4 separate regions of the Homo sapiens genome follow, and regions 1, 2 and 4 are each reported to be linked to region 3. Evidence: microRNA targets listed by miRTarBase, many of them from high-throughput screens and not tested one by one. Region 3 holds a microRNA gene; each other region holds the end of a gene's coding sequence.

What was found. Region 3 holds the annotated microRNA hsa-miR-4270 (UCAGGGAGUCAGGGGAGGGC, at 1,883-1,902, opposite strand). A microRNA usually pairs through its seed, bases 2 to 8, with sites in the 3' UTR of a target mRNA and lowers its output. Matches are read on the target gene's strand: a 7mer-m8 pairs with bases 2 to 8, a 7mer-A1 pairs with bases 2 to 7 and ends in A, and an 8mer does both.
Region 1: miRTarBase lists ASXL1 as a target of hsa-miR-4270. Seed matches in the 3' UTR shown: 7mer-m8 at 990-996 and 7mer-m8 at 1,355-1,361.
Region 2: the mRNA of INAFM1 is a reported target of hsa-miR-4270. Seed matches in the 3' UTR shown: 8mer at 839-846.
Region 4: miRTarBase lists CES2 as a target of hsa-miR-4270. Seed matches in the 3' UTR shown: 7mer-m8 at 516-522, 7mer-m8 at 1,434-1,440 and 7mer-A1 at 1,545-1,551.

What each region holds. Positions count from the first base shown.
Region 1 is chr20:32,436,748-32,439,844 of GRCh38, forward strand. ASXL1 (ASXL transcriptional regulator 1) reads left to right here. Exons shown (of 13, transcript NM_015338.6): 13 at 1-2,572. The coding sequence ends at 591. Among named protein-coding and RNA genes, the nearest start is that of ASXL1, 80 kb to the left of the region's middle.
Region 2 is chr19:47,274,811-47,277,922 of GRCh38, forward strand. It overlaps INAFM1 (InaF motif containing 1), which reads left to right and starts at 75. Exons shown (of 1, transcript NM_178511.6): 1 at 75-913. The coding sequence starts at 110. The coding sequence ends at 538. It also overlaps a transcript of CCDC9 not described here. RefSeq lists a silencer at 1-446.
Region 3 is chr3:15,494,397-15,497,508 of GRCh38, forward strand. MIR4270 (microRNA 4270) reads right to left here and starts at 1,912; the gene lies at 1,843-1,912. The region is part of intron 1 of COLQ (collagen like tail subunit of asymmetric acetylcholinesterase); the gene reads right to left.
Region 4 is chr16:66,943,511-66,946,510 of GRCh38, forward strand. It overlaps CES2 (carboxylesterase 2), which reads left to right. Exons shown (of 12, transcript NM_001365405.1): 12 at 329-1,586. The coding sequence ends at 515. Among named protein-coding and RNA genes, the nearest start is that of CES2, 9.5 kb to the left of the region's middle.

The DNA.
Region 1 (3,097 bases), not on the chromosome of region 3:
TCTGGTGGGGTACAGACTCCAAGGGAAGACTGGGCTCCAAAGCCACATGCCTTTGTTGGCAGCGTCAAGAATGAGAAGACTTTTGTGGGGGGTCCTCTTAAGGCAAATGCCGAGAACAGGAAAGCTACTGGGCATAGTCCCCTGGAACTGGTGGGTCACTTGGAAGGGATGCCCTTTGTCATGGACTTGCCCTTCTGGAAATTACCCCGAGAGCCAGGGAAGGGGCTCAGTGAGCCTCTGGAGCCTTCTTCTCTCCCCTCCCAACTCAGCATCAAGCAGGCATTTTATGGGAAGCTTTCTAAACTCCAACTGAGTTCCACCAGCTTTAATTATTCCTCTAGCTCTCCCACCTTTCCCAAAGGCCTTGCTGGAAGTGTGGTGCAGCTGAGCCACAAAGCAAACTTTGGTGCGAGCCACAGTGCATCACTTTCCTTGCAAATGTTCACTGACAGCAGCACGGTGGAAAGCATCTCGCTCCAGTGTGCGTGCAGCCTGAAAGCCATGATCATGTGCCAAGGCTGCGGTGCGTTCTGTCACGATGACTGTATTGGACCCTCAAAGCTCTGTGTATTGTGCCTTGTGGTGAGATAATAAATTATGGCCATGGGAAACATTGTATATTTAGTGTGTGTATTTTGATAATGATTGATCTTAAATCTGTATACAGAATATCATTGATATAATACTCTTTAGGCAGGAGCACTCTTGCCTTCCCCCAAAATTTACACTGCTAAAGCCCTCTGTCACTTGGCGACCCTTCTGGTCTTGCTGGAGGGGTTTCCTGGGTATAACCCATTGGGCTGCCCAAGGCCAGCCAGCCTGAGCTCTCCTGCAAGACAGAGCCTGATGTGGCACGGAGTGGGGTTGCGGGGGGTGGGGGGACTGCCTGACTCCCAGAGGGACTTGAAACTGAAGCAAGAAGGTTGCATTCTCCACCAAGGGAGTTAACCTACCTGAACTAAGTAGAAATGCCAGTCTTCCACTACCCCCTCCCTGCCATCTTTTCTTCTGCTACTTTGGGGAGTTGATGGCCAGGAAAGAAGCCAGCACAGGGTTAAAGTAACTCCTGGCATTGCCCACCAGGGGGCTGGTGCACCTGCTGACCTCAGGGTCACAGTTGAGTCATTTGCCAGTTGACGGAGCAAGTTTGACCTTGGTTCTGTTGCTGAAGCAAATTTGGAACTTTTCTGTCTCAGTGTGATCCACTAACCCACAGGATCATTTGGAACCTTGAATAGCTCTGCTTGGACAATGGGGTTGGGGAATAGGGTTGTCTTTCCTATGAAAATGCCATCTGTAGACCTTGTGAGTCAGCCGTCCAGATGTTTGCAGGTGAATTCCTCTGCTTGACATCCTCCCTGTCACTTTGGACCCTATGGGAGTGGGCATCTCCACGCACCTGTGTATGTGAAAGTCATTTTACATTTCAAAGCAGTGTGTGTTTCTTATTTTTATATTTTTAACTCTTTATTCTTGGATGTATAAAGTGAACTTTTTGGCTTCTGTAAGTATGCTCTATGCACCTCTAATGTTTTATCATGTATTTATATGTTGTACACAGTACTGGCTGATTCTGTAAATGGATGTATTGTACAGAGAACATGAACGTCTCTTCCTAATTTTACATCTTCAGCATCATTGCATTAAAGTGGTGTAATCTCCTTCTCTACATCTGTTGTCAGAGCCACTGAGTGCTGTGCTGCTCGACGTGAGGGTGAAATGATTGACTTGTGACCTGCCAGGTTGCCCGATGCCCTGTTGGGTCACCGGCTGGACCTGCTGCAGCCTGCAGAGCCACAGTCAGCCTGCCCACATGCCACCGAGCAAACGCATCTTGCTTTTCACATCTCTCCTCCTACAGCCTTAATGGCTGCTTGCTGCCATATGTGACAAATCACCACCACCAGTGTTAAGTGCTTCTGGATTCATGGGTGAGTTCCCTGGGCAGCCCCCAGGAAGGCCTTCCAGATCTGGCTCCAGGGTCACCACCTGTCACAGCAATACCTGGGACCATGCTCTCCTGGGACTGTGAGGCTCCTTTTGACGTACTTTTGACATCAGGCAGGTTTGGGAAGAAACAAAGCCATGCCTGCTCCTGCCTCTCTCCCAACATGTTTCCAGCAAGTAGATGCCCCTGTGTGTGTTTTCCCTTGCCTTGTTTCCTGCCTTATATCTTGTATTTCGACTTATTACAGAGTTGAGGGTTCTTGCTTAATTTAGATCAAGTATAAAATTTGTATGACTTCAAGTCTCATTTTATCTGAAAGGTTTTTTTCTCATTTAATCTGATGTGGCATTTTCGTCATCTGAAGCATGAGTGACAAGTTGGGAATGATGTGGTGATTTAGAATGCAGTATTGGCCAAGTCCAAGTTGTCAACTTAAGCGTCTGTTTACCAAAGACCGGGAACAGGGGCCCAAACATGTCCAGTCCTCTTCTTCCCTCTGCTGGAACCTTTGGGGACACTCAAGGGTACAGTTTGACACTGATCTGGTCCATGAGGCTGCCCAGAGAAAGCACTGCTTCTGTATGTCTCTTGTGGTATTGGAACAATAAACCCGTACAACCTGCAGTTGTGGTCTCAGTCATCTGTGGCTGCCTCGCTGGTGTGGGAAGGTCAGCTGGAGTGCTGAGCTGGAAGGGAAGGAGTAGACGCCAGCTCTCCTCACCTTGGCTCTGGAGCTACTCTTCTTATACTTGGAGCTCTTCTTTTGGGAGGTTAGTCCAAAAGGAATGACTTGGCAGCTTCACTGGTCTTTAGCCATTCATGACTTGGCGGACTTCACCACATAGACTGCAGTCAGCGTTCTACTGAGAGCAATGAGAATGTTTCCCCTTGGGAGTGCGAGTCACAAACTGTGACATCCCTCTGCAGCAACTCATCCAAACAGCTTCACTGAGGTTGAGGTTGCCAAGTGGCTTCCTAATGGTTAGTGGTCTTCTGTGGGAGGGTGACTAGCTCTAACCTTGGAAAACCTTAACCACAAGCACCTCTTTCTGTAGCCTCTGGTGGCAGTGAGAGGAAGGTGCTGGCCCAGGGTGGGGTGTCTGATGCTAGTTGCGTGAGCCTGAGTAGACGACGTGCTTCAGGGATTGA
Region 2 (3,112 bases), not on the chromosome of region 3:
GGCCGGAGGCGGGCGGTTTAGAGAGCGGGGCGGTCTGCGGGGTGGGGGCGGGGCCTGGTGGGGGCGGGGCCTGTGCGGTCTGCGGCGCGGAGCCGAGTGGGCTGCGGGGATGCGGGGGACCAGCTGCGTGGGCGGCGGCGCCGAGAGCCCCGGAGGCGCGGGGCTGAGCGAGGGCCCGCGGGGGCGCTGGCTGCGCTTGGCTCCGGTATGCGCCTACTTCCTCTGCGTCTCGCTAGCTGCCGTGCTGCTCGCCGTGTACTACGGTCTCATCTGGGTACCCACGCGGTCTCCCGCGGCACCCGCCGGCCCACAGCCCAGCGCGCCGTCCCCTCCGTGTGCTGCCCGCCCGGGCGTGCCGCCTGTCCCGGCGCCCGCCGCTGCCTCCCTCTCCTGCCTCCTGGGAGTCCCCGGCGGGCCGCGACCCCAGCTCCAGCTGCCGCTGAGCCGCCGCCGCCGCTACAGCGACCCTGACCGCCGTCCGAGCCGCCAGACACCCAGAGAGACGCCAGAGGCCGCGGAGGGGCGAAGACCCGGGTAACTCTCCCTTCCACCCCAACCCGGATCGCCAGCCCTCGAGAGCTCTGTGCTCCACGCCGAGGATGCACCGTCTCTGGATTGGTCCGGCCTTCTTCCTAATGACATCGCTCAGCGTCTCTGGAGCCGTCATCCCGCGGAATGGGGGCCCAGGGGGTGTCAGCTCGGGGCCTTGCCTCTTGCAGCTACTCTGTGGTCAGGCCGGGTCCTCCACCATCAGGAAGATCCCATCCTGAGCTCTGTCTCCTGCCCCTCCTGCTGTGGGATGCTGAGCACAGAGCCCACAGCCCATCTGCCTCTTCACCTCCCTGAATCCGTGTCCATCTGCAATAAACGACAGCCTCGGCTGCCTCGTGCTGTGTCTGTCCTGTTGTCTGCAGAGATGCCTCCCCTCCCAAGTTTGTGTGGGAAAGACCTTCCTGGGGTGTGGCCTTTGTCTGTTTTGTCCCGGGTGGGCTGTTCCCCTTCCTTAAGGAGCTCTTCTTTTCTTGGAGTAGGGAGAAGCAGCTTAGCAGCAGCAGGGCCTTTGAAGGTCAGACAGTGGGAAGGGCTTCCCAGTTTTTTGTGTGCTTGGAGCAAAGGACAAATGTCTCTGGGGAGAAGCAGAGTGTCTGCCCTCGTGTTACAGCACAGGAGACAAGAGGAGGGGTGGGGTGATATAGGACAATAGCTGGGGTTCTGGGAATTGCTGTTGGTGTAATTATCATGTCAGGGACAGAGGCTGAATCACCCAGGGATCTCAGTTGGCTGCCGAGAGGGAACGATGCTGGCCCACTTCCTGGGGTCAGAGAGATGAGAGTGGATGGCGGCGGCGGTGGTGTTGCTTCTCAGCCTGTCTGGAAATCTCAGAGCCAATGACCAAAGCGCTGTGCTGCCTTGGAAGACTGGTGCAGCCTCTGGCCTGGGGCGCTGCTAGGAAACCAAGGCCGGGAAACTGAGGTCTAGCTTCTGGGCAAGGAGTCCGAGGTGGGGAGGCCATGTTCCATCCTGGAAGACTGAGGCCTGGCTCTGGACAGGGCCTGGGATCTGACATGCAGGAAGCTGGTTCCTGTCCAGCCTCCCCGCTTGAGCTGGAGGCCTTCCCAGGAGAGTGAGGCTGAGCATCTTCTCCCACGCTGTGGCTCCTGGAGATCTGTGGAGGTGGTTAGGAAGGTCAGCTGCTCTGCTCACCTCCCCTTTACCCCACCACCACTCCCCAGAGGGTGGTTGTGAAGGGGAATCTAGGAAGCCAGCACTTCTTTGTAGTCAGCATAGGTGATAGTTAGGGGCACTGACTGGGGCGAGACTACTCGGGTTCAAATTCCAGCTCCTCTCATTACAAACTGTGTGACTTTGGGCAGGTCACTTGACCTCTGTGTTTCTTTTTTTTTTTTTTTGAGATGGAGTCTTGCACTGTTGCCCAGGCTGGAGTGCAGTGGCATGATCTTGCTCACTGCAACCTCCGCCTTCTGGTTCAGGTGAGTCTCCTGCCTCAACCTCCTGAGTAGCTGGGATTACAGGTGCCCACCACCACACCCAGCTAATTTTTTTTTTGTATTTTTATTTTTTATTATTTTTATTTTGAGAGAAGTCTCACTCTTGTCCCCCACGCTTGAGTGCAATGGCTCGATCTCTGCTCACTGCAACCTCCACCTCCCAGGTTCAAACAATTCTCCTGTCTCTGCCTCTCAAGTAGCTGGGATTAAGGCCCCTGCCACCACGCCTGGCTAATTTTTGTATTTTTTAGTAGAGACGCGGTTTCACCATGTTGGCCAGGCTGGTCTCGAACTCCTGACCTCGTGATTTGCCCACTTGGGCCTCCCAAAATTCTGGGATTACAGGCATGAGCCACCACACCCGGCCTCTGTTTCTTTTTTTTTTTTTTCTTTTGAGACGGAGTCTTGCTCTGTCGCTCAGGCTGGAGTGCAGTGGTGCAATGTCGGCTCACTGCAAGCTCCGCCTCCTGGGTTCATGCCATTCTCCTGCTTCAGCCTCCTGAGTAGCTGGGATTACAGGCGCCCGCCACCACGCCTGGCTAATTTTTGTATTTTTAGTAGAGACGAGGTTTCATCATGTTGGTCAGGCTGGTCTCAAATTCCTGACCTAAGGTGATTTGCCCACTTTGGCCTCCCAAAGTGCTGGGATTACAGGCGTGAGCCACTGCACCCAGCCTTATAACTTATTTAAAATTTTTAAGCATTTTTTGTTTGTTTGTTTAATAGAAATGGGGTTTCACACTATGTTAGCCAGGCTGGTCTTGAACTCCTGGGCTTAAGTGATTTTCCTACCTTGGCTTCCCAAAGCCCTGGAATTATAGGCATGAGCCACTGTGCCTGGCCCTGCCTCTGTGGTTCTGTAGAATGAAGATGCTAATGGTACTTCTTCATAGACTTGCTCTGAGGAATAAATAAACTGGTGATCTCAAGCCCTGAGAACGATGTCACATGTTCTCTCTCTCCACCACCTCTGTCCCTCAGGGTTTAAAAGCCCCAGCTGGGATCCTCTGGGGATAGCAAGTCAGTCCAAAGCCCTGGCCACCAGCAAATGGTGAGTTTGAGGGAGGGGCCTCTCCATTTCGGTTCCCACTGGCCCCCCTCTC
Region 3 (3,112 bases):
TTTGAAGTTGCAGGGTACCCAGGGCAACAGTGGTCAGAGTTTGAGAAAGAAAAGTCACAGCAGGCACTAGTTTATGGGTGTTAGACATTTATTCATTTGAGCACACTCTTTGCCAGGCACTGGGCCAGGCCTGTGGGAAGCAGAAAGTACCTAAATGGCATCTGTAGTTGGAAAGGCTTGCAGAGCTCAGAGGCCTTCTGCTTGTACCCCACTCCCTGCCCTCCCACAAGCAGCCTCCACTAGATGCCGTCTCCACCAGGAAGCTTTCCTTGACTTCCCAGGCAAGATTGAGTGGCCCTGCTGTTTTTCTCTGGGTTTACCCCTATGTTAGGTTTCCTCCATGGGGAAAAACTATTTCCTTGTATCCCTCTGACCAAACTGTGCTTTCTGGGAGAGCAGGAGCCAGCTTTTATCCCCAGGGTCTAGCACTGTATCTGGCATATGCTAGACACTCCACAAACGTTTGCTGAATTAATAATGACAAACACCACATGCAAGGCACCATTTAAGTGATTCACACATAGAAATTCACCTAATCCTCACAGCAACCCTAAGAGCTAGGTACTACTCTTGTTATCATCATCTCCATTTTACAGATCCATTAACTGAGGCAAAGAGGTTAAGCAATTTGTCCGAAGTCATATAGCTAGTAAGTGACAGAGCCAGGCAGTCTGGTTCCGGAGCCCTTCCTCTTGAGCTCTACACCATGACTGCATGTGGTAGAAATGAAGGTCTGGAGCTTCAAGTCCCATAACAACAACTTGGGGCTATAGCATCAGTGCCCTCCAAGCAAAGGCTTCAGGGAACCAAGCTGGGTTTATTGACTCACTGCAAAGAGGGAGAACACACACCGGAAGGAACCGTGGGGCATCTCAGTTAGAGGATGCTGGGAAGGACTGATCCTAGGGTTGGGGATTTTGCTAAGTGATGGAGGGGAGACTGAGGAAATGAAGTCTGGCTTCACTCTGAATTGGATGCCATCAGGAAGAAAGGGCCATTCTATAATTGAGTACCTTAATTCATATCTAGAAGAGAGTGGAGCAAGACCAAAGCTGTGATTGGTTTTTTAAACAGCAGCAATCACTCATATTAGCAAGGATAGGAGAATGTTTAGTTACTTTTGTGGTTGGATGATAGTCCTGTTTTCGTCTGTGTTCAGTTGTGATTATCAAGTGATTCTTACTTTCTTCTCAATCCATCAAGGTCACAGGGTGACCCTGTCTGAAGTTGGTGTTCTGTGACATCGCTTCTGTGTTGCAAAACACCATGCCGAGCTCTGAGAGTCAGGGCAGCTCCAGCTGTCACGGGCTACTTTTCTCAGTGGTAAAATAATATGGATACATTGTTCCCGAACTTGACATTAATGCCAATGTATTCCTCCTCAAGCTTCTCCAAGTTTCCTAGAGTGTTGAGTCGCTAGGAGTGGGCAGCTTCAGTTGTAGGGTGGAGGAGGCTGGCAGGTTCACACCAATCCCGGAACGTTTTTAAGGTCCCCTGGCTACAGTTTCTCCTTTGCTTCTCTTTTGCCTCAGCACACAGCTAAGGGCTGAGGCTGCAGTGTTCCAAAAGCACCTGGGAGGCTGGCAGGCCCACACTGCTAATATGCACTCATCACCATTATTTTTCCAGACCATATATGGCCTCCAGTGCCTTCCTTCACCCAGCACCCTGTGTGGCCTTCCACTGATGAAGGACCTTGTATCATTTAAAGCAATCACTTCTCTCCTTTCTTCCTGGAAATTGGAGACCTCTTCAGTGACCACAAATTATCAGCTGCATTTCTGGCTGAGGCTTCTGCATTGTTCGGCTCCCCCACCCCATCCCCCTCACCCTTTCCCCCTTGACCCACTTTCTTCCCAGCAGGGGAAGGCCATCTATTTCTGCCCTCCCCTGACTCCCTGAAGCTATTTGTTTTTAGGAGCCTAGTTTATTTACAGCTCATTCCTGTTCAGAATATTTCCATCAGGTGGACGTGTTTGGGAGCAGCTTCCCCCTCCCTCCTCCCTCCCAGTCAACTAAGCCAGGACTTCACATGTCTATTTTGGTGTCATCCGAGTGGCCTGTGGGTCTTTCTCATGGACTGTCTCTATAGAATTGTGTCTGAGCTCAGGCTCCAGTCTGGAAAAGCCCCGGAAGGCTCTGTTGTATTGAAAGCAATCCTGTGCGTATCTCCGTGGAGCCTGCAGAAACCTGGGAGCAGCACGTGGCTCAGCACCAGGCAGCTGCCTTGGAAATGCCAACCATCACGGAACTTCAGGACCGCATGTCCCAACTTAAAGACATCAAGCTCATGTTGTATGTGGCCAGTGCATTGCCAAATTATGGGTAATTGTTTAATGCAGGCTTTGGCAAGTGTTTGAAGCTTTTGTTGTCGATGATGCTGGTTTTGCCCTTTGGACTCAATACCCATTCTTGAAAAGGAGACTTTCTCTTGTTTCATTTCAAGAAACTGAGGCACATCTTTGGAAAGCGATTTTCTCCAATTTACTCTTGGAAAGACATGGATTTGATTAAAGAGTGTTAAGTCTAGGTGCAAGTGGCCATGTGAGCCAGTACAACTCACTTACTCAATCTGAAACTTAGTTTCCTCATCTGTACCACAAAGAGTTTTGCCCAAATCATCTCCAAAGTCCTTTTGCCTTTTTTTTTTTTTTTTTTTTTTTTTGAGACGAAGTCTCACTCTATTGCCCAGGCTGGAGTGCAGTGGTGGGTTCTCAGCCCACTGCAACCTCCGCCTCCAGGGTTCAAGCCACTCTCATGCCTCAGTCTCCTGAGCAGCTGGGATTACAGGCGAGTGCCACCATGCCTGGCTAATTTTTGTATTTTTACTAGAGATGGGGTTTTGTCATGTTGGCCAGGCTGGTCTTGAACTCCTGACCTCAGGTGATCCGCCCACCTCAGCCTCTCAAAGTGTTGGGATTACAGGCATGAGCCACTGCACCTGGCCTCCTTTAGTCCCTTTTTAAAATAAGTATGACACCAGAACCACCACTGTATCCATCTTCATCTACCCTCTTGCAAGGCCAGCCCCACAATAGGTTACTGGAAATAGCCATTTCCATTTCTGCCTTCTGTTTTTCCATCAAGTAGCCTTCCCTCCCACCCCCTCAAT
Region 4 (3,000 bases), not on the chromosome of region 3:
CTCAGACAGGGTGGGGGTGCGTGGGGCAGTGGACACGCTCTATCTCTCCAGTCTACCTGGAGGGTGGGCGCCAGTGCTGTGCCACCGTCAGGGCCTCCCTCTCAGAGAGAGGGACACAACAGAGCTGGCTGCCCTCCCCCAACCCCCACTGGTGCTGACACTAGCCAGAGGGAGCTTATTTCCTGTTTCTGGAAGCCTCCCCACTCATTCCCCAAGCCCACCTGGCCTGCTTGGCTGCCTTGCCTGACCAGACTCAGGGTGCTCAGGTCTGGGCTTCGGGGGCCCAGAGTGACCCTCATACTGCCCTGCTGGGATGGCATGTCTACAGGAACCCCAATGGCGAGGGTCTGCCACACTGGCCGCTGTTCGACCAGGAGGAGCAATACCTGCAGCTGAACCTACAGCCTGCGGTGGGCCGGGCTCTGAAGGCCCACAGGCTCCAGTTCTGGAAGAAGGCGCTGCCCCAAAAGATCCAGGAGCTCGAGGAGCCTGAAGAGAGACACACAGAGCTGTAGCTCCCTGTGCCGGGGAGGAGGGGGTGGGTTCGCTGACAGGCGAGGGTCAGCCTGCTGTGCCCACACACACCCACTAAGGAGAAAGAAGTTGATTCCTTCATTCACTTCGCCATTCATTCATACTTCCGTCCATCCATTCAGAAAGCATTTATTAAGAATTTACTCAGGCATGATGGCCCATACTTGTAATCCCAGCTATTGGGAAGGATGAGATGGGAGGATGGCTTGAGGCCAGAGGTTTGAGACCGACCAGCCAGGGCAACACAGTGAGACCCCTTCTCAAAAAAAAAAAAAAAAAAGAGAGAGTGTGTGATTAGAAGCTAAATAGGAAAGTTTTGAGCTTCAAGTCAGTGAGGAGTAAAAAAGATTTTTAAAAAGCAAAGAAAACAAAATATAAGGGAAAAATATGAGAAAAATAAAAATAAAAAGAGAATAATAGGCCAGGCACTGTGGCTCATGCCCCTAATCCCAGCACTTTTGGGAGGTCAAGGTGAGCAGAACACCTGAGGACAGGAGTTTGAGACCAGCCTGCCCAACGTGGTGAAACCCCATCTCTATGAAAAATACAAAAATCAGACGGGCACAGTGGTGGTGCCCACCTGTGATCCCAGCTACTCAGGAGGCTGAGGCAGGAGAATTACTTGAACCTGGGAGGCAGAGGTTGCAGTGAGCTGAGATTGTGCCACTGTACTCCAGCCTGGGCAACAAGAGCGAGACTCCGTTTCCAAAAAAATAAGAGAGAATAGAAGAAGCTACTGCATGATGTTAGTTACCAAGCCTGCCATGGGTCCTCTCTTGCTAGACACACTCCATAGATCCCCCCACTGAGCTGTGGATGGGCAAACCCCGGTGGAATCCCACCCTCCCCAACACCCCACTGAGCCCTGGGCCCCCTCCTCCCTTCCTCACCTCCACCTTCTCCCTGCCTTCTCTCTTCTCTCGTCTGAGCCCCCAGGCCTTTTCCACTTTGAGGGAGGTGCTTCGAAGAATGTTGCCCACACCTAAGTGTTAGAAGCCTATGTCCGTTCATCCCTGAGAGGTCTGAAAGAATAAAAATAAATTCTAAAAAAAGCCTCTGTCTGCCTCTCCCCAAGCCCCAAGTGCTCTTACATCTGTGAGTGGCCAGGCCGGGTGCGGTGGCTCACACCTGTAATCCCAGCATTTTGGGAGGCCAAGGTAGGCGGATCACCACATCAGGAGATCGAGACCATCCTGGCTAGCATGGTGAAACTCCGTCTCTACTAAAAGTACAAAAAATTAGCCTGGTGCAGTGGCACACGCCTGTAGTCCCAGCTACTAGGGAGGCTGAGGCAGGAGAATCCCTTGAACCCGGGAGGCAGAGGTTGCAGTGAGATGAGATTGCACCACGGCACTCCTGCCTGGGCCACAGGACGAGACTCAGTCTCAAACAAACAAACAAAGAAACAAAAACAAAAAACAAAAAAAATCTGTGAGTGGCCAATAGGAAACCTGGTTACTGGAATTCCTAGTGTTTTAGTCCATTCAGTTGCTATAGCAAAAATACTACCGATTAGACCCGGTGCAGTGGCCCACACCCATCATCACAACACTTTGGGAGGCCGAGGTGGGTGGATCACTTGACCCCAGGAGTTTGAGACCAGCCTGGCCAACATGGTGAAACGCTGTCTCTACTAAAAAGACAAAAATTAGCCAGGCTCTGTGGTGCACACCTAGAATATCAGCTACTCGGGAGGCTGAGACACGAGTATAACATGAACCCAGGAGGTAGAAGTTGCAGTGAGCTGAGATTGCACCACTGCACTCCAGTCTGGGCGACAGAGACCCTACCTCAAAAATAAGTAAATAAATAAATAAACAAATAAATAAATATTACCGGTTAGGCCGGGTGCAGTGGCTCATGCCTGTAATCCCAGCACTATTGGAGGCCGAGGTGGGACTCCTGAACTTGAGCCCAGGAGTTCCAGACCAGCCTAGGCAGCATGGAGAAATGTCATCTCTACAAAAAAATAGAAAAATTATTTGGATGTGGTGGCACACACCTATAGTCTCAGTTACTCAGGAGGCTGAGGCGGGCAGATCACTTGAGCCTGGGAGGTCAGAGCTGCAGTGAGTCGTGATTGCACCACTACACTCCAGCCTGGGCAACACAGCAAGACCCTGCCTCAAAAAAATAGGGCTTCCAATACTGATATAAAACTTAAAATACTACAGGTTAATATTATAAACTGGGTGCCTTATAATGACAGAAATGTATTGCTTACAGTTCTCGAGGCTTGGACATCGAGGATCAAGGTGCCAGCAGATTTGGTGTCTGGCAAGGACTTGTTCTCTGGTTAATAGATGGCAACCTCAGGCCAGGTGCGGTGGCTCACACCTGTAATCCCAGCACTTTGGGAGGCCAAGGTGGGGTATGACCTGAGGTCAGGAGTTCAAGACCAGCCTGGCCAACATAGTGAAACCCCATCTCTACTAAAATACAAAAATTAGACGGGTGTGGTGGCAG